Homo sapiens: one gene and its partners. The protein of the gene in region 1 interacts with the protein of each later gene in a pairwise test. Each region holds a gene or a part of one and is shown in the gene's direction. Other genes may lie near its edges.

Region 1 (3,197 bases):
AACACACAGAAAAAAAGACCTTCATAGAAACAGAATTATAGAGAACAGAAAAAAATTTCATTGAGAATGATAATTAATATCCTTAGAGGCCAAGCGTGGTGGCTCATGCCTGTAATCCCACCACTTTAGGAGGCTGAGGTGGGAGGGGTGCTTGAGACCGGGAGTTCTAGACCAGCCTGGGCAAAATAGATCCCTTCTCTACAAAAAATAAAAAATTTAGCTGGACGTGGTGGTGCATGCCTATTCAGGAGGCTGAGGTAGGAGGATTGCTTGAGCCCAGGAGTTTGAGGCTGCAGTGAGCTAGGATCGTGCCACTGCACTCCAGCCTGGGTGACAGACGGGTCTGAAAACAAAACAAACAAAAAAATTCTTAGGTAACGTTGTAGCCATGAAATAAGAACATTAGGCTATAAAAAAGTTTGAGAATCAAAATGAACTCTTAAAAATTAGCAAAAATTTAAATCAGCAAAAATTTAGTAATTACATTAGTGGGTTAGAAGATAAAGTTGAAATATGAAAAGCAGGAAAGGTAAGAAAATAAGAGTCAATCTATAACGTTTATAGCCATTACAACAGAAAAGGGAAGATAGGAAATAAAGAATTAATGTAAGAAAACGTCCCAGACCTGAAGGACGTGAGTTTGTAGAATGAAAAGAATTCACTTAATACAGCGCAAATGAATAGGAAGAGTTCACATCAAGGCACAAAAGAATGCATGTTGGAAGGCCAAAGCTAAAGAGAAGATTTCAAAGACTTCAGAGAAAAGGTCGCTTACAAAGGTGCAGGAATTAAAATACTGTCATACTTCTCACTGATAGCACTAGAAGGTAGAAGACAGTAGAGCAGTACCTTTGCAATAGCTAGGGAAATATTGTCCAACTCAGAATTCTCTTCCTTTCTGAACCATCAAGTGAAGGGTAAATATAGGCTAATGACATCTCCCATGCACACATTCTCTGTAGTCATTATCGTCATAGCTGACACTTAAGTAGTGCTTACTGTGCTTCCCTTCAGTACTTTACAGCCACAATATGAGATGGACACTCACATTTCCCTGTTTTGTAAGTGGGGAAGAGGCGTAGAGAAGTGAGTTCTCAAGGTCACATGGCTAGTCAGTGGTAGAATTGGGATTGGAATGTGGGCAGTCTTGACTCTACCTGAGGATGTCCTCCATCCAAAGAAAAAGATCCAAGAGCTGAGATCCACCACAGAGCAAGGCGAGAGGAATCCCCAGGCTGGAGCTGCAGGGATGTCATGCTCCAGGATGGTAGCAGTACAAGTGGGTCCAGGTTAGAGTAGATGGTTGAAGGACTCCAGGAAGAAATGGAAGAGCTTATATTCCCTGGCATGTCTGATCAGATCCTGAGTGATGTTTGGGCATGTGAGGGTAGTCTCATGTTGGAGAATGGATTAGAAAAACAAAACAAAAAGGGGAAAAAAACTTATGAGAGGTCATCATCATAATATGTTATGTGGGTTTGCTTTGAACGATATTTGTGTAGCCTTTATAAGGAAAACCCTGAATATTGATTTCACTAAAAATGTGGTTTGGGGAGGATGTGGGAGAAAGTGCTTTTGAGGCGTGTGCGTGCATATGTGGGGCCAGTGGACAGTGGTGTAAGAGTGAGATATCCTCTGCTTCATAGTAGGAAGTCAGGAGATATCACTAATATCTGGTGGAAAAACCAAGCACTGTCAGTATAGTATTTAGAAATGTGGCAATAAATGCCAGAGGAAACACTTAAAACGTTTGAAAAGGGTTGCCTGTGGAGAGCTGGAATTAGGATTTGGAAAGAGTGAGGTAGAGGACTGCTATTATTTGATACAAGAATCGTGTGATTTTTTTTTTTTCCCCTCAAACAGTGTACACAGAAAACCCGGAATTATCCTTGGCTTTTTTCTTCCTGTCACAACCCATATCCTATCCATGTCAAAGCTTGATGGTTCTATATTCAAAGTATGTCTGGAGCCCGATCCCTTCTCACCACCTTCCTTGCTGCCACTGGGTCCAGCCACCACCTCTCATCTGAATTATTCCAGTGTCTTCTCTCTGGTCCCTGAGTTTCTCTTATTGCTCCTCTCCAGTTTCTTAGCAGCATTCCCCAGACTGATCCAGTTCACATACAGTCAGATCGTGTTGCTCTGTTGTTCAGAACCCTGCAGGGGCTTCCTAGTTCACAGAGTCCAAGCCAAAGTCCTTCAGGTTGCCCCACACGTCCACTTACCCCACTTGCCTGCTTTATTTTCTCCAAAGCACTTAGCATCGTTGAAAATTTTTTTTTATGAATTTATTTTGTTTCTTGCCTGTCTTCCCTTACCACAATTCGATCTCAGGAGGGTGGGATTTTTTCTGGCTTCTTCGCTACTGTATTTCCAGAGCCTAGAACAGTATGTATAGTAGGCACTGAATAAACATTTGTTAGATAAGGGTATTGCCTTTATATAAATAAAAAGCCAATTAAAAATACCACAAGTTTTTAAGCCATTTGCCATAAGCTAAGCTAAGCAGCTCATTGTTTTACTGGCTTAAGCATCCATAAGCAGTTTGAAACTGAAATCCTGAGGGGTCTAATTGAAAAGATTTGTTTCCATCTGGAAAATAACGATATTCTGTCCTGAGATTACACACCTATCTCTGCCATGCACTCTCAAATCTTTTTTACAAAAATGTATCATACCGCTCTGTGGTAACTACTTATGACTAAAACAATTGAGTTTCACAACCCTTGGCAGCTAAGATTTCAGGGAGAACACTAGTATATGTTTTTAAATCATAGAATCTGCTTAGTGAGTATAAATAGGCATCACACACGTCTTCTGTAAGGAGCACACACCTAAGATTCCAATTCTTCTGACATGGGGAAAACCACCTCCAAGGCAAACCATCAGTTTGCCTTCCGCTTGCGCATAACAATTCTTGCCATGCTCTGCTGCTGAGTGAAGCTATTTGTATTTCATCAGGGTGTTCTCTTGCCTGACTTTGCCCCTCTTCTCACCTATTCCTTCAGGAACCTTAAGATGCCAAATTAGTGCTATCATCTATATTTCCATGGCTACCGATCAAAGTTCTGCATACACATGATTAGAATTCACAGCAGGATAAGCTGGACTATGTGATGGAATGGTCTTTATCCCAAAGCAAATACCTGATTACACAGGGAACAACAACAACAAAAAGGAGCCAAGTGAATGACGTG
Region 2 (3,500 bases), on another chromosome or scaffold:
AATTTTTATCCTTTTGAGATATTTTTAAAATGCCTCATACTCTAATCATCCTAAATAGTTTGCAAGGAATTTTGAGTAGTTGACCCTCTTCTGTCCCTACAATACCACAAATATGGTATTTGTGCTATTGTATTTATGGTATTATATGTATGGTATCATACTAATTTTACTAGTAAGAAAACTTAATAAGATAATAAATTTCTTGTCCAGAATTAGACAATGAGTAAATGGTGGGACCAGGATGAGATTCTAATAGATTTTCTACTGTAAAGAGTTACTCTGCTGTATAGATTTATGCAATAAATTACATTGATGTCTCGATATCCATATGCCTAAATATATGAGAGAAACATACATTTAAAAAATTTATATTACCACAGTGTTTCTCCTTTAAGTGTTACATTGCTAGACAAAGTGCTTTCTAATTACTTTGATTAATTTCACTTCTCACAAACCTTGTCAGATTAAATAAGTTGTCTACATTGGGGTAGATGAAGTTACCTGACTAAGCTTATCCAGAGAATAAATGGTGAAGTCACATTAGAATGCATAGCTCAGGACTATAATTTAGAGACAAAAAAGCTACTATTCACTTCTACTTACAATGTCCACAGAAAAATTATAGCAGACGAATATAATTTCATCTCATAATAATAAGCACTTAGATGTAATAAAACTGCAGAAAATAAATACATTTGATATTGCCTCTTTAAAACTTAAAGACATTAAAATAACAAAAACCAAAGGAGATATTAAAATTATCTTAAATCAGAATTTCTAGAGTAGGCTTCTGGTCATTGATAGTAATAAAAATCTCCTCATGTTGATATACCATGCAGCCTTGGTTGAGAACCATGGGAAGAGGGCAGAGGTTGACAAAACTTTAGTGTAAAGGACCACAAAGTAACTATTTTGGGCTTTACTACCTATATGGTCTCTCTCTCAACAGCTTAACTTACCCATTGTGTGTGAAGGCAGTTATAGGCAAAGTGTGAAGAAATGAGCGTGGCCATGTCCCAATACGATTTTATTTGTGGTATAGTTTGAATTTTATATAATTTAATGTTGAAAATGTTTTAATGTAAAATTTTAAAATATAAAATGATAAATTATATATATTTTTTCAATATAAAATTAAATTACTTTTTGCATTACTTTTTGGCAACTGCAAATGTTGCATAGATAGAGAGATAGAGAGATAGAGATAGAGAGATCCATATAGCATCTGTCTATTCCCTAGATAATTGAGTGAATGAATAAATGAAATATATCCAATCAAAATTGCCCATGAAATGATATTGTGTCTTCTCCACTGAGAATGTTTATCAGTTGAGAGTGGAGATTAATGTTCCCAAGAGCAGCAGTTCTTCACTTGACACATATATTTGAAAAATATGGTACATATGGCTGTAGAGATAGTTACATGAACCAAGAGGAAAAGTATATTTATCTACGGTTTGGCCTGATCTTAGGATTTTTGTATTTTTCTCATGTTTTCAAACAAATAGAATTTTCTTTTTAAAATTGTATCAGTGGACATATCCATGAACTTTTCTTAATGGGAGTCTGGTTGTGGGTGGCATTATCTTTTGGCAATTGCAAATGCTGCATGCTGCTTCTTTGTGTTTTCTGTGTGTAGCTAGAGAGATTGCAAGCTGAAAATACCTCGGAGTGGGACAAGAGGGAAATACTTGAAAGAGAAAAGCAGGGACTGGAGAGAGAAAATAGAAGGCTGAAGATCCAGGTGAAAGAAATGGAAGAGCTTTTGGATAAGAAAAATAGATTAAGTGCAAACTCTCAAAGTCCTGATTTCAAGATGTCACAAATTGATCTGCAAGAAAAAAACCAGGTATGGGTGCTCCTTGGAGCAAATTCTCACTGTCTAATCTCACTCTGATGCCTACGCAGAGTCTGTCTTCACTCGTACACGCCTCCACATTTGGATATTTCCTTTTGTGCCAGCTAATACCTGATACTCCTTGCTCTTTTGCCCACTAGGATGTAAAATAACGTTCATGCATCTGAAACAAAGTGTGTCAAATGTTAAAATATGACAAATCTTCAGACAGTTTCAAGATTTCCAAAAGGAAGAAGAAAAATGAAGTAAGAAATAGAACTTTCTGGTTTTTTGTTTCTTATTAAAGCTTTGTCTCAGTATTTTCTAAGCTAATGATCTTATTTCCAATAAAGATTTTTTCATTAATTCAAGCGACTATACAATAAGCATTTGCTGGTAGCTATGGTAAGTATCTGCATAAACATTTAAATTTAGCTGAAACTCACTGCTTTCTGGTTCTTTTTTGTCAGTTTCAGAACGATTATTTTTGAGCTAATGAAATGCATAATTTTTCAAATAATTTTTCCAGCCTGTGGTATAAATCTTAAAACCAGGATAACATTCAGAATTTAAATTTGGGAAATTTAATTTTGGATGTGTTTTATCCCCAAGCCAGTAGATATAGTTTATGCTATAGACGGACATTTTTTTGATAGTTTACAGATTTTTAAATGTGCTTTTAATGGCAGTCTTATAGTTTTAATGTGGGTTCGTGTCAATGTGCTGTAAATTATATTTACCTTGTTTCTATTTTTCAATTATATATAGCATCTTAATGCACAATTCTATTTCTCACTCAGTTTCTTTAACAGTTTTAAAAGGTGAATTTGATAAGTTCATAGTTTTGAGATATTTAAGTCATTCATACTCACATAAGCTCTAAAACCTAAATGGCCAGAAAAATTGAATTCCATATTATTTCATCATTCTTTCATGAATCTAGGGATTTATTGCAAATGCAAGATTAAATTGTATTAGTGTTTCATGACCTAGCAATGCAAATATCTAAAGTTAAATGTTATAGTCCGTGACCATAATTTTCTATTATATTGATTCATAAACTATCCATAATAATGTATTTGATTCTGACATATGTACACTGATAAATCTGTAGACATCTTATTTTGGAGATCTCTACTCTAAAAAGTGCAGAATTATCTCAATTATGGACTGTGGTTTGATTATAGAAATACTTTTTATTTGATTTATTCAAACAAGACAAACATTTATTCGTATTATTCTCTGTGTCAGTCACTGTTCTATATGCAGGTAATGAGAATATTAATCAATGAATCATTATCCCCACCCAGCATGGGCTTAGAGTCTATATAGGGAGTCAAACACACAAATTTTTATAAATAAAACATTATAGTGATTGCTAAGAATAAAGTGGAAGGGGACACAGATTAAGAAGCAATTGATTATATTTGATTTTGGCACCTTTCTAGTTGTATCAAAATGTATTAATATAAAGTATATCTTTCGGGAAAAATTGAGACCTGTTTGGAGCTGGCATTGGCGTAACCTGTCATCAGGGCACACCGAGTCCAGACCTGGTCTCTTTGACAATGTAGTTATTTGGGCTGGGACTAAGCAGAACTTGGAAACTGAGAGGATCCTCAAAGGTCTAAGTCAGTGGGTATGCTGATCACTTAGAAGACTG
Region 3 (3,500 bases), on another chromosome or scaffold:
GACAGTGGTGTGTGTGCTGAGTGTGAGCATCAGCAGAAAAACTCAGTCTAAACCCCTTTGTTCTTCTCTTGCAGAGCTTTTGCCTGCAAGGCTGTTCTGACCACAGTGGGCGTTTTGGGCCCGTTTACAGGCTCCATGTTCTGTAGCCGTAGGGGCACCACGTCTTCCTCTGCTAAGCTGCTGTTTGCTGCTGCCTTTCAGAAATTGAGGCCAAGTATGATAAGAAGATGAAGATGCTGAGGGACGAACTCGACTTGCGGAGAAAGACTGAGCTCCACGAAGTGGAGGAGAGGAAGAATGGCCAGATCCACACGCTGATGCAGCGCCACGAGGAGGCCTTCACCGACATTAAGAACTACTACAACGACATCACCCTCAACAACCTGGCCCTCATCAACTCCCTCAAGGTGCTGTGCGTGGGCTGGGCTGGGGAGGCACACTCTGCCTGTCCTAGAATGTGGGCTGCAGAGTCCTGGGGATCCAGACCCCAGCTCTCCACCCCAACACACCCAGTACTTTTTATAAGATTGTTTGACAATGCCCCTCTCATATCCTTAACTGAAATTCCTAAATAACGTAACCTATCTCTACCTATTGTTAAAAGCAGTCAGGATATTGCCCTCACCGTAGTGCAGAGGGGGAAGTAATGAAGTGTGTTCTGGTTTGTAAAAGCTCAGATGGAACCGCAGTGAGGGCCGTGATGTGGCTGGAGTGGATAGGTGTCATAGTCACTGCCTGCGACAGGTGGATAGGTGTCATCGTCACTGCATGCTGGCAGTGACAGGATTTTCTACAGTAGACAACGGCCCTTGGTGGAATCTTGAACAAAGTATAGTCCTTCAGTCTGCATGGAAGCTGCATTCCCAGAAAACTCAGAATAAGTTGAAGCTGCAGAAATACTGTTTATACATAGAAGACGTCTAGGTGCCAGCATGCCTGAGGCTGGCAGCAGCTGGTGATGGGCAGGAGAGCACCCAGCTCTCACCATGCAGGCCACAGCCCCTTTGGTTCTGCCTGCTGAGCCCCTGCCGGGCCTGTGCTTGTGCCTGCAGGAGCAGATGGAGGACATGCGGAAGAAGGAGGACCACCTGGAGAGGGAGATGGCAGAGGTGTCTGGGCAGAACAAGCGCCTGGCAGACCCTCTCCAGAAGGCTCGGGAGGAGATGAGCGAGATGCAGAAACAGCTCGCAAACTACGAGAGGGACAAGCAGATCCTGCTTGTGAGTTTCCCGCTGGATTCCTCTCCCTCCTTGGCATGAGCTTGCCTAGGCTCAGGAGGGAGGAGCATCACAGGGAGGGGCTTGGCCCTTAGGGCAGGAAGGGAGACGGGGAGGCCTGCATTTCTCCTTTCTCTGCCTCGTGTTCTCCTGGGGAAAGTAAAGTCTGGGGGTGTTTTGGAGACAAGGCCCTCATCTTCACCACGTGCTACCGGCCGGCCTTGGTGAGACTCAGCTGCTTGTGTCCTGGAACCAGGTCTTTCTGGCGATTATTTTTGGCCTTGCCATCTCCCAGGAGCCCGTGTTACTTGGATGACTGTGAATCTTGAATACTTTCTGTCCCCTACTCCCTGTTTTTCCTCCAGTGCACAAAAGCCCGTTTGAAAGTCAGGGAGAAAGAGCTGAAAGACCTGCAGTGGGAGCATGAAGTGTTAGAGCAGCGATTCACCAAGGTGAGTGGCACCACGCTGGCCCTGCAGTTGGCGGTGGGTGTTAGAGCAACGGTTCACCAAGTTCACCAAGGTGAGCGGGCACTAGGCTGGCCCTGCAGTGGGGATGGCACCCCTGCTAGCCAGGGACGGGGCTCTCCTTGTGGCCCCTGGACCAGCTTCAGATGCCTTGGCCAGGTTTCTGGGTTCTGAAGCTGGAGGCCCTGTTCCCTGTAACTCATTCCGCAGCTTCTAAGAGGCAAAAACCTGTGGCCTGTTCTGCATGCATATTCTGCAGAAGGCCTGGGGTCTTGATGGGGAACGGATCACACATGACTTTCGTCCCCTCGAGAGCTCACCTCTGAAAGCACATGAGGGAGGCTCTTAAGTGTAAGTGAAGATGAGTCTCCGGCTGCTCAGTGCTGGTCCTCACACTGGCGAGTTTTATGGGCTCCCTTCCAGGTTTCCTGCATGCTCTCGTGTGGATGTGACTTTGTATGTTACGAACACGGGATCAGGCCATAAGCACAATTTGCTTTTTAATCTCACAGTGTATCAGGCTGCACATAGGAAGCGGTCTCATCCTTTTCACAGCTGCTTGGTGCTGCGTTTTGTGAACGTTTGATCATTTAGCCGACTCCCGTCTGTTTCTAATGCTCTGCTGCTATAAGCATTGCTGCCTCAATCCTTTTAAATTTGTCTTTGTGCACTTGTGTGAGATTGCTTCTTAGGAAAGCCAGTTCCTAGCAGTGGGATTGTTGAGTCTGAGGGTTCTGTTCTGAGGACCCTGATCATCTGTCCAGAGGGCTGCTCTGAGTCACACACCTGCCAGGGTGCGGAGGGGCCGTTTCCATCCTCACCTGCACCAGATCTGACAGGTTTAAACCTTTGCAGAAGTGACTGGGTGGAAAACATCTCATTTCGTGGGCACTTCCAAGATTCGCAGTGAGTGGTAGGGGTGCTCGGTCCTGTCTCTGTCCCTTAAAGACGCTCCTTGCCTCTGTTCAGTTTCAAAGTTCTGGCCAAGGACCAATCCCTGCAGCATGGGCCCCTCAAGGCTTTGTCTGTGGTGTGCGGGGCCAGGGCATCTTATCTTGAGCCGCAGTTATATGTGCTGTTTTGTTCTCTAACCTAATTGAAATTTTTGAACACAAACCGTTGTAGTGGGATTCGCTTCTCAGAAATATCCCATCTGTCTGTCAGATCTAGCCCCACCTTCAGAGACACCTCAGGTCCTGCACGACGTGCATTGCTAGGCTGTGCCAACTCTTGGCACCTAAGGGAAGGGCACCTGCAAGGTAGTCAGTGAGATCCTGAGGACTGCTGTGTTAGACAAGGGGCCCTTCCTTCTCCCTGTGGGTTTTGAGGTGGACATTATTGGGAAGAGGACAGCAGAGACGTGCCTGGGTTGGAGCCTTGTTTTCTGTCACATTTTCTTCCATTTGAATGTGGTTCCTGACAGTGTCCAAGCTGGTGTCTCTTCCTAGAGAACCGAGAGCTCAAATTTATCAGCAAAATTTAGAGACCAAGGCAGTTATTTATTTATTTATTTATTTATTTATTTATTTATTTATTTTTGAGATGGAGTTTCGCTCTTGTTGCCCAGGCTGGAGTACAATGGCACGATCTCGGCTCACTGCAACCTCCACCTCCTGGGTTCAAGTGATACTCCTGCCTCGGCCTCCCGAGTAGCTGGGATTACAGGCGCCTGCCACCACGCCCGGCTAATGTTTGGTATTTCTGATAGAGACAGGGTTTCACTCTGTTGGCCAGGCTGGTCTCGAACTCCTGACCTCAGGCGATCCACCCACCTCACCCTCCCAAAGTGCTGGGATTACAGGCGTGAGCCACCACA
Region 4 (3,500 bases), on another chromosome or scaffold:
GGTGTTAAGAGCATTATAGGCCGGGCGCGGTGCCTCGTGCCTGTAATCCCAGCACTTTGGGAGGCTGAGGTGGGCGGATCACTTGAGGTCAGGAGTTCAAGACCAGCCTGGCTAACATAGTAAACCCCCGTCTCTACTAAAAATACAAAAATTAGCTGGGTGTGCTGGCGGGTACCTGTAATCCCAGCCTCCTGCTGGCGGGCGCCCGTAATCCCGGCCACTCAGGAGGCTGAAGCAGGAGAATCGCTTGAGCTGGGGAGGCAGAGGTTGCAATGAGCCAAGATCGTGCCACTGCACTCCAGCCTGGGTGACAGAGCAAGACTCCGTTTCAAATAAATAAATAGATTAATAAATAAAGTTGGGTAAACCTTTATTCAAATCCCAACCCCAGCATTTACTGAGTATCTAGCTTTGACTTTACTGTGCCTCAGTTTCCTCAATAACAGGAACTATAATTTTGAGAGGGTGATGTGAATTTTGCATCTCATACGATTACATAGGATTAAATGAGATAAAGTATGTTCACAGCCTGGTACATAATTGGTGGTCAGTAAATTATTATTATCACTTTTACTTTTTTCTTTTTTTGTTTTGTTTTGATTTTTTGTTTTTGAGAGAGAGTCTTGCTCTGTTGCCCAGGCTGGAGTGCAGTGGCACGATGTCAGCTCACTGTAGCCCTCCGCCTCCCAGGTTCAAGCCATTCTCCTGCCTCAGCCTCTTGAGTAACTGGGATTGCAGGTGCGCACCATCACACCCGGCTGATTTTTGTATTTTTAGCAGAGACGGGATTTCACCATATTGGCCAGGCTGGTCTCGATCTTTTATTTCTTAAATAAATAATCTATAAGGGCTGTAACAGTTTAAAGTTTATAATTTGGGCCAGGCAAGGTGACTCACGCCTGTAATCCCAGCACTTTGGGAGGCCCAGGTGGGTGGATCACCTGAGGTCAGGAGTTTGAGACCAGCCTGGCCAACATGGTGAAACCCCGTCTCTGCTAAAAATAGAAAAATTAGCCCGGTGTGGTGCCACATGCCTGTAATCCCAGCTACTTGGGAGGCTGAGGCAGGAGAATCGCTTTAACCCAGGAGGCAGAGGTTGCAGTGAGCTGAGATCGCGCCATTGCACTCCAGCCTGGGTAACAAGAGCAAAACTCGGTCTCAAAAACAAAAAGTTTATAATTTGGTTTGCTTTCATTATGCTTGCTTTCCTTATGGATGAATAAATTAATTCAGATTCATAGTCCTATTTTGGTGTCAAAAGATTTAACTATAGGTCAGGCATGAGACTGTCTCAAAAAAAAAGAACTATAGAAGGTAAATCATTTCAAAGAAATGTGGAAATTTGCATATAATCACATATTTATCAAGATATACAGTTTTTAGTATGTAGTACATTGTTTTCAAAATAATATATCTTAATTAGTTCTGTATAACTTTCCAATTGATTAAAGATCTGGTGCCATTGTATTATTCAGTACCAGAAATGAGCTGTATTTTTGCTTAATAACTTCTTTCATGTTTTACTTACAGGCATTTTTTACTGTCTACAGAAACTTATTGTAATTCATTTTTCCTCACTCCAGTAGTAAGAATTATACCAAGTAAGTGGACTGTATTGAAACTAATTAATTTTGTAACAGTTAATGAGAATTTAATTGGATAGTGGTTGCTGCATGTGTTGTGTTCTCAGTGGAACGTTGAATGTGACCTCATAAATAGGAAAATGATTTTTTTCTTGAAAATTATTTATATTCTGATCTGTGTGATGAGTACTTTTTTCTGGAAGCCAGGAGGCCGATACATATTTGTGACAATATTTTTTTAAAGGAAATGTCTCCGCCTTTAGCTTGAAAACTACCTAAAAATACTTCCAATGGTAGGAAATGTGCCTATAAAACTCCTAGTATGGTGCCATAGGCACAGTGTTTCTTTTTTTATATATACACAAAATAAAATGACTTAAACATGTGGTTTATTGTAATTATCCAGTTCTCACAATTTATATCAACATTTGAAAAAGAATTTTTTAACCTCCGTAAGAAAGAAAACAGAAATCAGTTTCTGCCTTGAAACCTGACTGGAAAACAATCTGAAATACAAACAGAGGCATCATTTAACACTTTTCTTATACCATAGATTTTCAGGTGGCTCACATATTTCATATTGCCAATAAATTCTTCAGTTAGAATTTTTATAACGTCATTAACAGTTGTTATTTGTGACATATTTGTTAATTTTTTCTCGTTTTTTAGATTGAAAAGATATGAATGAGTATCCTAAAAAAAGAAAAAGGAAGACTCTACACCCTTCTCGTTATTCAGGTCAGTGTATAATTATTTTAAAGTTGGGTATGGATTAATTCCCACAAAATTATATTCTCATCCATTTTCTCCTAAGTGATCAGATAAGACTTAAATATCTGGGTCAATATTTAGGTAAAACAACGGTTTAAATACATTATCTGAATATATATTCCTTATTGTCTACCATGTGCTAGGCACACATAAGAACTTTACAGACATTATATTATTCCTCACAGCTCTATGGGTTATAAATATTTAAAATTAGATAGCCAAGGTTATTTACTTATATAACATAATTGGGATTTGCATGTCTGATACCTAAGCTGTGCTTAAGACCCAATAATGACAACCTTGGTAGAAAATATTTTACATTATTGGGGAAAAAAGACTTTATCCTCTTTATTACTTTAGGAAATGTAAACTTTCATGCTGAATGTGTAATTTTTTTTTTTTTTTTTTTGAGACAGAGTCTCACTCTCTAGCCCAGGCTGGAGTGCCATGGTGTGATGTCAGCTCACTGCAACCTCTGCTTTCTGGGTTCAAGTGATTCTCCTGCCTCAGCCTCCCAAGTAGCTGGGATTACAGGCGTGTACCGCCACACCTGGCTAATTTTTTGTAGTGTTAAAGTAGAGATGGGGTTTCACCATGCTGCCCAGGCTGGATGACTGTGTAATTTTAGATCCTTTCATTGAGGTTGGCTCTGCTGTGTTGGCAGTATAAGAAAAGGGGTCTTTGTGGCCATCTCTAATACACCTCGCATACATTTACTTGGGACCATCTCAGTCTTACCTATTAGTCTACCCAGCCTACACATTCTTCATATCTGAAGAAATTAACCCTAGTATACTGCTTACTGGCCCTTCCTAGACAACACTTGAAATGACTATATTCAGAAGCCCTAAGTGGTCCTTACCATTTCCCCTATGTAACAACCTTTCTCTGCATGACATGGCACACCTTCCTGGTGTTTATTTCACTGTTTTGTGCAGTTAATACAGTGTTTATCATATATTTTTATTTTGTGTGATTCTGAGTATAAAACAAATGTATCCTTGTATATTTCAAAGTTGTTATGTTTTAGAGTATGTAATTTGTGGTTCTTTCAAAGTCCTATGTCAATATTGGATCTGAAATATAAAAGCTTTAAAAGTTGAAAATGTATAATATTTTCATTACAGATACTATAATTAACATTAA
Region 5 (3,500 bases), on another chromosome or scaffold:
GCTAAACGCCGGGTGCGGTGGCTCACACCTGTAATCCCAGTACTTTGGGAGGCCAAGGTGGGCGGATCACGAGGTCAGGAGATCGAGACCATCCTGGCCAACATGGTGAAACCCCATCTCTACTAAAAATACATACCTGGGTGTGGTGGTGTATGCCTGTAGTCCCAGCTACTCGGGAGGCTAAGGCAGGAGAATCGCTTGAACCTGGGAGGCAGAGGTTGCAGTGAGGTTGCAGTGAGATCAGGCCACTGCACTCCAGCCTGGGTGACAGAGCAAGACTCCATCTCAAAAAAATAAAAAGATAAACGCTAAAGCTTTGGTGTGGGTTAGACTGCCATGGGAAAAGTATAGAGAGAGAACCAAGGTCAGAACTTGGAGATGTGTTGCATTTCAGGTAGAAGTTGAACAGAGGCCACAGAAGGATCCAGAGAAGGAGCATTTAGTGGAGGTAAGGAAAGAGTTGGTAGAATGTAGTATCACCAGAGTCAAACACAAGTGAGTCAGATGCTGCAGAGTCAAAGAGACCAGAGAGGAAGCCACTGGGTTTTGCAACAGGTATCTACCAATCATCCTCCAGATGGCCAGTTTCTGTAGATATAGAAGATCACAAAGAGTAAGTGATTGATGAGGAAAGGCAGGCAAAGAGGACAATGGTGAAGATAAAGAAGATCAGATAGCAGCTCAAGAGCATAACATGAAGAAAAGTTATTCTGCTGCTGCCCTGTTTTTAGAATGGGAGGAACTGGACCATGATTAAAGATTATGGAAAAGAACTCAATCGAACTGGAGAAAAGAGAGAGTATAAGAGGAAGGGTTATCTTTAAAGATGAGGTTGGACATTTCTTCCTTTGGGACTAGCGGGAAGCAGAAGCTGAGTGAGTCTTCAGAAGACTGTTAAGGAGGCTGATTGGTAGATGGTCTGCGATTTTCCTTAGAAGAAAAAAGAGCAAGATGAATACATTCTAGAGATCTGCTATATAACATAGGGCTATAATGAACAACAGTATATTGTATGCTTAAAATTTGTTAAGAGGGTAGATCTCATGTTAAATGTTCTTACCTCAGTAAAAAGAAGAAGAAAGTAAGAGTTGAAGTTGAAGTGCTATGTAGGGGCTCAGGGCAGAGGTAGAGACTTGAGAGAAATTTTAAAATTAAAAATTAAAGTTAATACAAAATTTAATTTAAAAATCTAAAATTTAGAATTTAAATTTTTAGAGCTAGATGATGATGATGACAGTAGCTAACATTTGTTACATGCTCATGATATGTTGGGTAATATGCTAAGGACTTCACATGCATTATTTCCTTTAGTACAAACTATTACCCTATGATGGTGGTTACTGTTGTTATTCCCATTTTGAAGATAAGGAAACAAGCAGGGGAAGGTGGTGTACCATACTCAAGGTCAGACATCATCTTACTAGAGCTGGGATTAGATCCAGGCAGCAGCAGGCTGACTCCAAAACTTATAGTCTTAATCATTTTGATATAATCACAATAAATTTAAAGGCAATTTAGAAAGTTTCTTATAATTTTCAAAATACAGCACTGTAAAAATGATGGTTTTCTCTTTCTATATCTCCATGAATTTTTTGCTCATTTTTCAGATTGAGGTGTGGGCATGGGGAGGAGTGTGGGAATATAAGAAATAACCATAATTATATCCAATGACTTCAGGATCTCCATCCCTTTATGCTGTGCCTTGAGGACAGGTGTCAGCAACTTTTTAGATGTGATGTACCAAAGTATATTGATACATTCCTGCCTGGGGTACTGGAGGGACAGTTGCAGTTACCACCTGCAAGTCTCATGTATAGACCAAGCCACTGAATGCTGCCAAGTGGAGAAACTGAATCCATTAGTAGATGTGCTTTTAGAGACACGTGGAGAACATGGATATATTATACAAATAAGAGCAAGAGATGGTCAGGAGGAGAGAGAGGGAAAATGAAGGTGATTTCATGGCAGGGCAGGCTTCTCCTATCCTTTGAGAAAGAACCAATAACTCAAGAGTAATCATACAGTAAGTCATTATCAGCTAGATCAGAGAATGTTAAAGCTGGAATAAGCCTAGTAATTGTTTAAATCCGTTTAGTCCTTTTTGGAGTCACTTATCCTTTTAAAAGTCAGAAGCTACGGACTCAGCTACACTCCCTCACACACACACATTTTGCATATTATTTCAGGCAATTCCAGCATCCTCAGAAGATTAATCATGGGTCTTGAACAAGGAGTTCAAGTTAGGAATGCTGATCTAATTTAAGGCTCTCAGTTTAAAGATAAGGAAACAATATTATTACAAGTTAAAACTTAAGTAGTAAATAGCTGCTAGCAAAAAGACATCATCTTACTAGAGCGGAGATTACAATCCAGGCAGCAGCAGGCTGACTCCAAAACCCATAGTCTTAATCACTTTGCTATAATGTTTTGTTTGAAAAGACAAAGGCAAAAGAAAAGACAAAAGCAAGTATCTCTTAAAGTGTTTCTTCTTCCTCCAGTATTTTTCTTCGATGTGAGTTTTTTACTCGTTTGGTTGGATCTCTTTATGTAGAATTAATGTTTTTTAATGCTACAGGTAAATTCACTTCTTTTTTCTTCTGTTAATGAGCTCCAAATTAGTGAGGTTCACCAGGCTACTGATAGGCTGCTTGTTTATAAATCACACACCTTTTGGAGAGTTGCACACTCCCCTCCAAAACTTTCTTACCTCCTAAAATGATTTCTAAAGGTGACTTATCACCTCTCTTCTTCAAAACAGAGACCGGATGACTGAAGAGTCCAAAGTGGAAGCAGAATTGCATGCTGAACGCATAGAAGCTCTAAGAAAGCAGTTTCAAACCGAGAGAGAAACTACAAAGAAAGTGGCACAACGGGAAGTGGCTGAGGTATAGTCATGAGAAAAGTTTCTCTTTTGGTGAATGCCTCTTAGGATAAGCAGCTCAAGGATTTCAGAGAATGGCTACAGTTGTTCTTTGACTCCTCTCATCCCCCTTTGATCAGCAGGCCAGATGTAATTAAGACCTCTCTGTAAAGCAACACACAAGAAAAAAGTTTCTGACATAATTCTCTGCCCGACAAAGGTGTGCCTTGATGGGAGATTTTCCATCAGAGAGTGATAAGCAAGAGGGATAGAGGAATAAGGAGACTGCCATTTGATAGACAGAAGAGAAATCATCTGTCTTCTCAGTTCATTTAACTGGCATCTATTCTGCATCTACCATTTCCTGAGAGGCACAGAGAAAACAGTAGAAGATATGGTCCATGCCCCAGTGTGTGCCAAATGACCCTTGTTTGGGATCTCCACTCCGGAAATGAGATATATAGGGAAAACATCAGAGAACTTTCTTGGGTAGCAGAGGCTGTGTACAACTTTGAAGGAATTCAAAGTAAGAGAAAGTTTATTTTAGGCCATTTGGTTGATAGAAGAAGAGAGGCTTAATGAGAGTACAGGATTGAGACTAGCAGAAATGGCAGGGCTGGACACCTTATGAAACAGCACA
Region 6 (3,500 bases), on another chromosome or scaffold:
TATGTTTATTGTCTGTTTCATCTTACCAGATGTACATGCTACCACCCCAAATAGATCTTTGTCTGTTTTGTTCTCTGATACATCTCAAGTGCTTAGAACAATGTTTTGCACATAGTAGTCACTCAGTATTTATCAAAGGGATATAAAAGCGCATTGATTTTGTGTTTTGTGACTCTTAAGTTGTATAACTGGTAAGCCTGTTTTCTCTTCCTAACAGTACAAACAGGCCGTCCATGAGCTTGTGCGTTGCGTAGCACTGACAAGAATTTGCTATGGAGACTCACATTGGAAACTAGCAGAGGCACATGTTAATCTGGCTCAAGGCTACCTCCAGCTGAAAGGTAAGCTCGCCTTAGACTGAGGGGGATCAGTTGGTCGATTTCTGCTGTTCTCCCCAAAATTTGATTCACACTTAATTAGAAGGATCAGGTTTTTTAATATTCTCCTTTCTAAATACCAAGAAGCCATTTCTTTTTAGAAAGAGTTGATAAGGTATATAACCTGTAAACATTCAAAGGGGAAAAATGGAAAAAATATTTTAACTTTTCTGGTTTTTTTGTTTTTGTTTTTGTTTTTATGATTTCAAAAGTAAGGTTCTTAGGAGAAAATTAATCTGTTGGGCCAGAAGACTTTGTAGGAAAAAACCCAAGGTATGGAATAGGGGCCCAGAATGGGATCCATTCACACTTTTATTGGAGAATCTCTTGACTGTAAATAACCAAAAAATTTAAAAAGACTAACCCAAATTGGCATAAACAAAAGTTTTTGGCTCATACAACTTAAAAATTCAAGGGAAAAAATTTTTAGACTTAGCCATATCCAGTGTTCAAACAATGTGACCAGGATTCAATTTTTCTCTCTCCCACTGCTTGGCTCTGTTTTTCTTGGTATTTGCTCCATTCTTTGCCAGGTTTTGCCCACATGGTGGCAACAAGACTGCCTGCAACTTTAGACTTCCCTTATAAGCATTCCCAGGAGGAAAAGAATGTCCCTCCACCAAAATCCCGGGATTTGGGAAGGGTTCTAATTGGAACAACTTGGGTTGTATACCAAAGGCAAGGAATAGTCTGATTGGCTAAACCTTTCTTTTGGCTTCATTGGATCCTGAAGGAGAAGCAGGCCTTCGCCACATCTCATGGATTGGATGTGCAGGAGCCAGGCATCCCAAAAGGGAAACAGAGGGGAGAATGCGTGCAGGGGAGGCAAAAACAATAGACACCCAGGATATGATGATGGCTTCTACTTACTGACTGTGCAGCCTAAGACAAGATGGACAAGAGCATCTCTGTGCTCAGCTTCTTCAGCTGAAAAGTGATGATGATGGTAATGGTGATGCTAACTTTCCAGGGTTGGCCCAGTGAATAAAGAAAATAATAGAAGTGGAAAACACCAAATGCCAAGCATATTCTATACCAAGCGTATTCATTATTGCCACCCAATAAATTTGGCCAAATCTGATTATAGACTGGTCCTACCTATTAGATCAAAGGCTCTTAGGGACCTTGGAGATTATCTAATTTAAACTCTGCCCTCCCACCCCATTTTGTAGATTCAGGGAAAACAATGAGTCTGAGTTAGAACAGCTTTCCCCATACCACACTGTTAATAAGTAGCTGATCTGAGACTCAGACCTAGGTTTTCAATGCCAGTTTGTCCTGCCATCTGGGGTTTCAGACGATGCTTTTCTTATACAGCCTGCTGCCTCTCTGCGTGACAGTCCTTCTTTCTCAATTTAAAGTAAAAGTAGTATCTACCATTTATTAAAGTCTCATTTGGTGCCAGGCATGTTGTTTTCCATGCATAACCTTATTCAGTCCTCACCACAGTCCTCAAAGGTGGGTATTTTTAATATCCCTGTTTACAGCTGAGAAAGCTGAGGCCAACGTTTTATAATAAGTGGTGGAGCAGGGGATCCATCCTGGGCAGTCTGACTTCAGAGCCAATGTTCTTGAACTTCACCCTATGCTGCCTCCAGTAAATTGAGTTCAGGTTCCTTCAGGGACTCGACACAGTTGAAAATACAGTCCAACATGCTTTGTGTAACATCACAAGCACAGGTGGCACTAATACATGTCTGTGCTTTTTAAAAATATGTAATAAGACAATCTTGTGTAAGAATTCCCACATGAAACACATACCCTTGATTTTCTCCATTAGAAAATATATTCTTCCTGTTTTATAGACATAGGAACAGAATTAACTTCATATTTTGACAGATTTTTTTAGAGATCTAAGATACAATTTTGTGTAACTAAGAACATAAGATGGGGGCTGTGTGTATGTGAGTGGAAGTGGTTGTCGGTGTAGGGGAGGAGGATGGGAATACAGGGACGTGCAAAGCCCTGAAGCCGTGCTAGCGATCTCAGTCCTCCCTTCCCACAGATTAACAAGCCCGTGGAGGAACACTGGAACACACTGGGGAATTCTTTCTTAGTAGTGATTTTTTTTTGCTCCACTTTGTTTCATATTAGTCTCTTACCACATAGGAAGATGAAATTGTCACACATTAATCTGTTACCTCACTGGAATTGTGTTTGTAAGTTTTTGTAGATATCAGATATGTATTATGTTAAAAAAATAACTCTCTGACATTATGATTATAGGTGGGTGAGCTGAAGATTCAGAATTTTTAGTATTTCATTAAGATTGCAGTTACACAGCCAGGATTAAAATTCATGAATATTTTATTTCCTGCTCAGAATGCTATAGTTCTTGTATTCAGTTTGTTTCTTATAATTATATGTAACATATTTTGCTTCTGCTATTGGTGAGGTTTCAAAGCTGTTCAATTCCAGCTCATTTTGTTTATTTCTAAAAAGGCCATTTGGGGGAAAATTTATCTTGGGTACTTGGTATAAAACACTTCTTTGGTTGTTACAGTCATGGCAGTGTTTCATGCTGCCCAGATACGTCTCCATGTGTCATTTGACAATATGTGAAGGAGACCTTGTTAGATTCCCAGACCATAAGGAACTGTATTCCTGTCCAGTTGAGATGATAGAGAAACTGAGACCTCTTTTTCTTTGTCCACAGGACTGTCACTGCAAGCAAAACAACATGCAGAAAAAGCCAGACAAATCCTCGCCAACTCCATTGTGCCTCCCTATAGTGAGAATACAGATGTTTTCAAGTTTTCCATTGAGCTTTTCCATACCATGGGCAGAGCTTTACTCTCCCTTCAAAAGTATCCTTTTGCCTCTAACTTTTACAAATAGAAATACTATTCACGTAACACTTACACGCCAAGTAAAAAGCTGATGCTGATGGATGACTTAGGAAGTGTGATTGGAAGTATGGGAGCCAAGGAAGTTCAGGACATGGGGTGTAGAATCTAGAACCAAGTGGAAAATTTCCTGAACACAATTCAGATTTAAGGAAGCTGCAGAGAATTTGACAAAAGCAGAGAGACTTTCAAAGGAGCTGCTACAATGTGGAAGAATTATAAAGGAAGAATGGATAGAAATTGAAGCACGGATCAGATTATCATTTGCACAGTAAGT
Region 7 (3,500 bases), on another chromosome or scaffold:
ACAGCAGTGTGGTGAGACAATGAAGGAAACAGTTAATGTGAAAACTGTATGTGGCTATTACACATCAGCAGGGACCTATGGATTAGATTCTGTAAAGAAAAAGTGAGTTGCCTTTCTTGTTTTTCTTCCTATCCCACTTTTAGGAATTTGGTTGCTTTAGTTTCTTAAGAGAATGTATAGCTATAAGAAAGAAAGAATTAAGGAAAAATAGGATAGGGGGATGGAATTTTATTAAATAAAAAGCCCCTTTTAACTTTTGGACTAATTAGTAAATTCCTCAAAAGTGTCGTCTTTGTAAGTGACCATAGGTGGGTTATATACATGCTTATAAAAACCATGGTCACCTTGGTCGGGTGTGGTGGCTAACACCTGTAATCCCAGTGGTTTGGGAGGCCAAGGCAGAAAGATCACTTGGGCCCAGGAGATTAAGACCAGCCTGAGCAATGTAGGGAGACCCCATCTCTACAAAAAATTTTAAAAATTAGCCAGGCATGGTGGCATGCACCTGTGGTCCCCACTATTCTGGAGGCTGAGGTCAGAGGATTCTTTGAGCCCAGGAGGTTCAAGACTGCAATGAGCCGTGATCATGCCACTGCACTTTATAGTATATTTTCTATTAAAATTGTTTAAGAAGTAGGCCTGATAGACTGACAGTCCTTCTAACTCTTGAGAGTTGCAGTACCTGTTTTGAGATTTTAAAGAAGGTTATACTAGTATGCAGACCCCTTAATAAACTATTTAACACAAACTCAAAATGAAGTTTTAAAACTGGAAATGCTCTCGTTAATATAAAGGAAATATTCTCTTAATAATATCCACTGACAAAAATAATACTAAATTTCCTATTGTTAAGCTAAAAGTTTTGAGCATGTTCTGGCAAGATTAATCTGATTTTATTTTAACTATAAGTCCTACTTAATAAATTGTAAATACATGGCATATAATGTAATAATTATATATTTTAATTTCAGGTGCCTTGAATGGCTTCTAAACAATTTGATGACTCACCAGAATGTTGAACTTTTTAAAGAACTCAGGTATTTGAATTTCAAGTAACTTCATAATTAGTCATCCTAAAATATTGTTTATCATTTGTTAAAGTACATAACATTTTTGTAGAACACAAAAATATATTATGAAAAAGCAAACAATTTAATGAAAGGGCTTGACTACATCCATAAACTGAAGAAATGCTGTGCAAACTTATTTCTTTGTTGTGAATAATATAATGGATATTATGTCTACTGTTTTAACCGAAAAATGCATTACTGTTATAAGACTATAGAAAAGTTTCAGGTTTTGCCAGGCTGTTAGAGAATTTAAAAGTTATATTTTAAAAATCATCTTTTTTATTGAGAAATAAGTTTGAAGAAACTGTTTTGGCCTTTTTTTTTTTTTTTTTTTACCTTCAAAAACTTTTCATGTTGATCCGTTTTCTCACTAGGATGAATTCTCTGATGTGGAGTAACAAATGTGTGTCTCCTATAAATGTATATTTTTCCATCTCTGATTATTTCACACCTTGAATCCAAATCTGTAGTCCCAGCTACTCTGGAGGCTGAGGCAGGAGGATTGCTTAAGCCATAGAGGTCAAGGTTGCAGTGAGCTGTGATTGCGACACTGCTCTCCAGCCTCAGTGAGAGTGAGACAAGTTACCATGGTTCTTCACCGTCACCTCCTGGTACAAGGTCTTCTGAACCAGGTCAAGGTATTCCCACTCCTGATGAGAGAAGTCTGTGGCCATGTCCCTGAATGTTACAAATTCACAGGCCATGGTTTTAGACAAGCAAAAGCCAATCAGTCCTCAGGGTTTCTCTACCAGAAAAGCGATTTGGGAAAACCTAGACCTATAATCCCAGCACTTTGGGAGGCCAAGGTGGGAGGATTGCTTGAATCTAGGAGTTCGAGATCATCCTGGGCAACATAGTGACATCCCCTCTCTTTGAGAAAATATCAATCTTCCTTTAAAAAAAACCTGTTAGCGCCACACAGGGTCCCATGCAGGCTTCAGGCTGGGGCTGCAGAGGCTCCTGCAGTCAACTGCGCCGCCTTCGTCCTCAAGCGGGACCTGGTCAGACGCAGCACAGCGCAGAGCCAGAGGTCCTGGAGATGGAGCCAGAGGTCCAAGATTTCTCCATCACCTGTGGACTATGTAGTCCAAGCTGGAATAATAGGACCGCAGTCACCCGTGAGAAATGGATTCCAGGGTTCTAAAAACCTACAAGAAATATGGCGGTGACAATGAGGACTGCCCACCCTGCCCACCACCCAAGCTGCAGAGCAGCCTTTCTTTTTTAAAGAGATGGGGGCCTTGGTATGTTGCCCAGGCTAGACTCAAACTCCTGAGCTCAAGCAGTCCTCCTGCCTCAGCCTCCAAGTAGCAGGGATTATAGGCACATACCACTGCACCCAGCTTAGTTTGGCTTTTTGGATTAAGTACGCATATTATCCATTTATTCCTGCAGCAAGTACTTCCTGACTGTCCTTTATATGTAAAGATACTCTATTAGGGGCTGTGAAGAATGCAGAGATGATTTTGTCATGGTCTCTTGCTGTCAAAGAGCTTATTTGTAGTAATGGGACTAAGATATTTGTGATGGGTCTGAGAAAATCTGGCTAGCAGTTAACTTTTGAAGGCTGGTTGGCATTACAGTCATTTTCTGGCTTGCATTTCCCTGACAGCAGTGCTTCTGAGACAAGGATACAAATGTGTCCGAGAGTATGTGACATTCTGATGGAAATGTACAAAACCAAAGTCAAACATTACATAGCTTCCCAGAATGTGAATTTTACTGATTTTTTTTTTTTTTTTGGTGGGGAGGAGGTGGGGAAGAGGTAAATATTTTTATGTTTAAATACATTATGGAATAGAGGGAATTCAAATTTCCTTGAACTCTCAAGATACAATTTATAGAAATGTTACTTTTTATGGTTAGACCACCTCCTAGATTATGGGGTTTTTTTCCTTTCTTTTGCCTTTACGAGATAATTTGGTAGAGAAGTGTGAGAGACTTTCATCACCTGGTGATGTCAAGGCATAAATAAATCACCGTAGAATGTTTGATTTGAAAATCGTTAGAAACACTTTAATACAGTCAACCCTGCTTATCCATGGGTTCTCCATTTGTGGATTCTACCAACTGCCGATTGAAAAGATTTGGGGGAAAAACTATAAAAAATAATAACAAAAAAACCCAATGTAGTATGACAACTATTGCATAACATTTACATTGTATTAGGTACTGTAAGAACACCTAGAGATGATTTAAAGTATATGAGAGGATGTGCATAGGTTACATGCAAATACTATGCCATTTTATATAAGGGACTTGAGCATAGAGGATTTTGGTATTTGTAGGAGGTTCTGAAACCAATCCCCCACAGATACAGGGGGATGACTCTAATTTCTCACTGAACTTTTTGAAAAAGGAGCAGGATCCTCTTAAAAACCCACGTGCTCTCTTGGCTTTTTATGGCTCAAAGGAAAGAAAGAACAAAGG

Evidence for each region.
Region 2: the proteins of PRPF18 (region 1) and CCDC102B interact in binary tests that used the Homo sapiens proteins (3 or more experiments, as listed by UniProt).
Region 3: the proteins of PRPF18 (region 1) and DRC4 interact in binary tests that used the Homo sapiens proteins (3 or more experiments, as listed by UniProt).
Region 4: the proteins of PRPF18 (region 1) and ZNF639 interact in binary tests that used the Homo sapiens proteins (3 or more experiments, as listed by UniProt).
Region 5: the proteins of PRPF18 (region 1) and CCDC150 interact in binary tests that used the Homo sapiens proteins (3 or more experiments, as listed by UniProt).
Region 6: the proteins of PRPF18 (region 1) and TTC23 interact in binary tests that used the Homo sapiens proteins (3 or more experiments, as listed by UniProt).
Region 7: the proteins of PRPF18 (region 1) and GMCL1 interact in binary tests that used the Homo sapiens proteins (3 or more experiments, as listed by UniProt).

Annotation. Positions count from the first base shown.
Region 1 is NC_000010.11:13,624,965-13,628,161, forward strand, and holds part of PRPF18 (pre-mRNA-splicing factor 18), read left to right. Parts: intron 1-3,197.
Region 2 is NC_000018.10:68,895,580-68,899,079, forward strand, and holds part of CCDC102B (coiled-coil domain-containing protein 102B), read left to right. Parts: intron 1-1,639; coding exon 1,640-1,849; intron 1,850-3,500. UniProt on the Homo sapiens protein: During interphase, forms fibers at the proximal ends of centrioles to maintain centrosome cohesion. During mitosis, dissociates from the centrosome following phosphorylation to allow centrosome separation. Contributes to CROCC/rootletin filament formation.
Region 3 is NC_000016.10:90,036,180-90,039,679, forward strand, and holds part of DRC4 (dynein regulatory complex subunit 4), read left to right. Parts: intron 1-201; coding exon 202-407; intron 408-1,052; coding exon 1,053-1,220; intron 1,221-1,582; coding exon 1,583-1,669; intron 1,670-3,500. UniProt on the Homo sapiens protein: Component of the nexin-dynein regulatory complex (N-DRC), a key regulator of ciliary/flagellar motility which maintains the alignment and integrity of the distal axoneme and regulates microtubule sliding in motile axonemes.
Region 4 is NC_000003.12:179,326,031-179,329,530, forward strand, and holds part of ZNF639 (zinc finger protein 639), read left to right. Parts: intron 1-934; exon of another isoform or gene 935-1,314; intron 1,315-1,530; 5' UTR 1,531-1,601; intron 1,602-2,252; 5' UTR 2,253-2,263; coding exon 2,264-2,321; intron 2,322-3,500. UniProt on the Homo sapiens protein: Binds DNA and may function as a transcriptional repressor.
Region 5 is NC_000002.12:196,723,215-196,726,714, forward strand, and holds part of CCDC150 (coiled-coil domain-containing protein 150), read left to right. Parts: intron 1-394; coding exon of another isoform or gene 395-398; exon of another isoform or gene 399-1,157; intron 1,158-2,758; coding exon 2,759-2,885; intron 2,886-3,500.
Region 6 is NC_000015.10:99,218,582-99,222,081, reverse strand, and holds part of TTC23 (tetratricopeptide repeat protein 23), read left to right. Parts: intron 1-217; coding exon 218-341; intron 342-3,033; coding exon 3,034-3,184; intron 3,185-3,368; coding exon 3,369-3,494; intron 3,495-3,500. UniProt on the Homo sapiens protein: Participates positively in the ciliary Hedgehog (Hh) signaling.
Region 7 is NC_000002.12:69,843,160-69,846,659, forward strand, and holds part of GMCL1 (germ cell-less protein-like 1), read left to right. Parts: coding exon 1-102; intron 103-971; coding exon 972-1,037; intron 1,038-1,425; exon of another isoform or gene 1,426-1,708; intron 1,709-3,500. UniProt on the Homo sapiens protein: Possible function in spermatogenesis. Enhances the degradation of MDM2 and increases the amount of p53 probably by modulating the nucleocytoplasmic transport.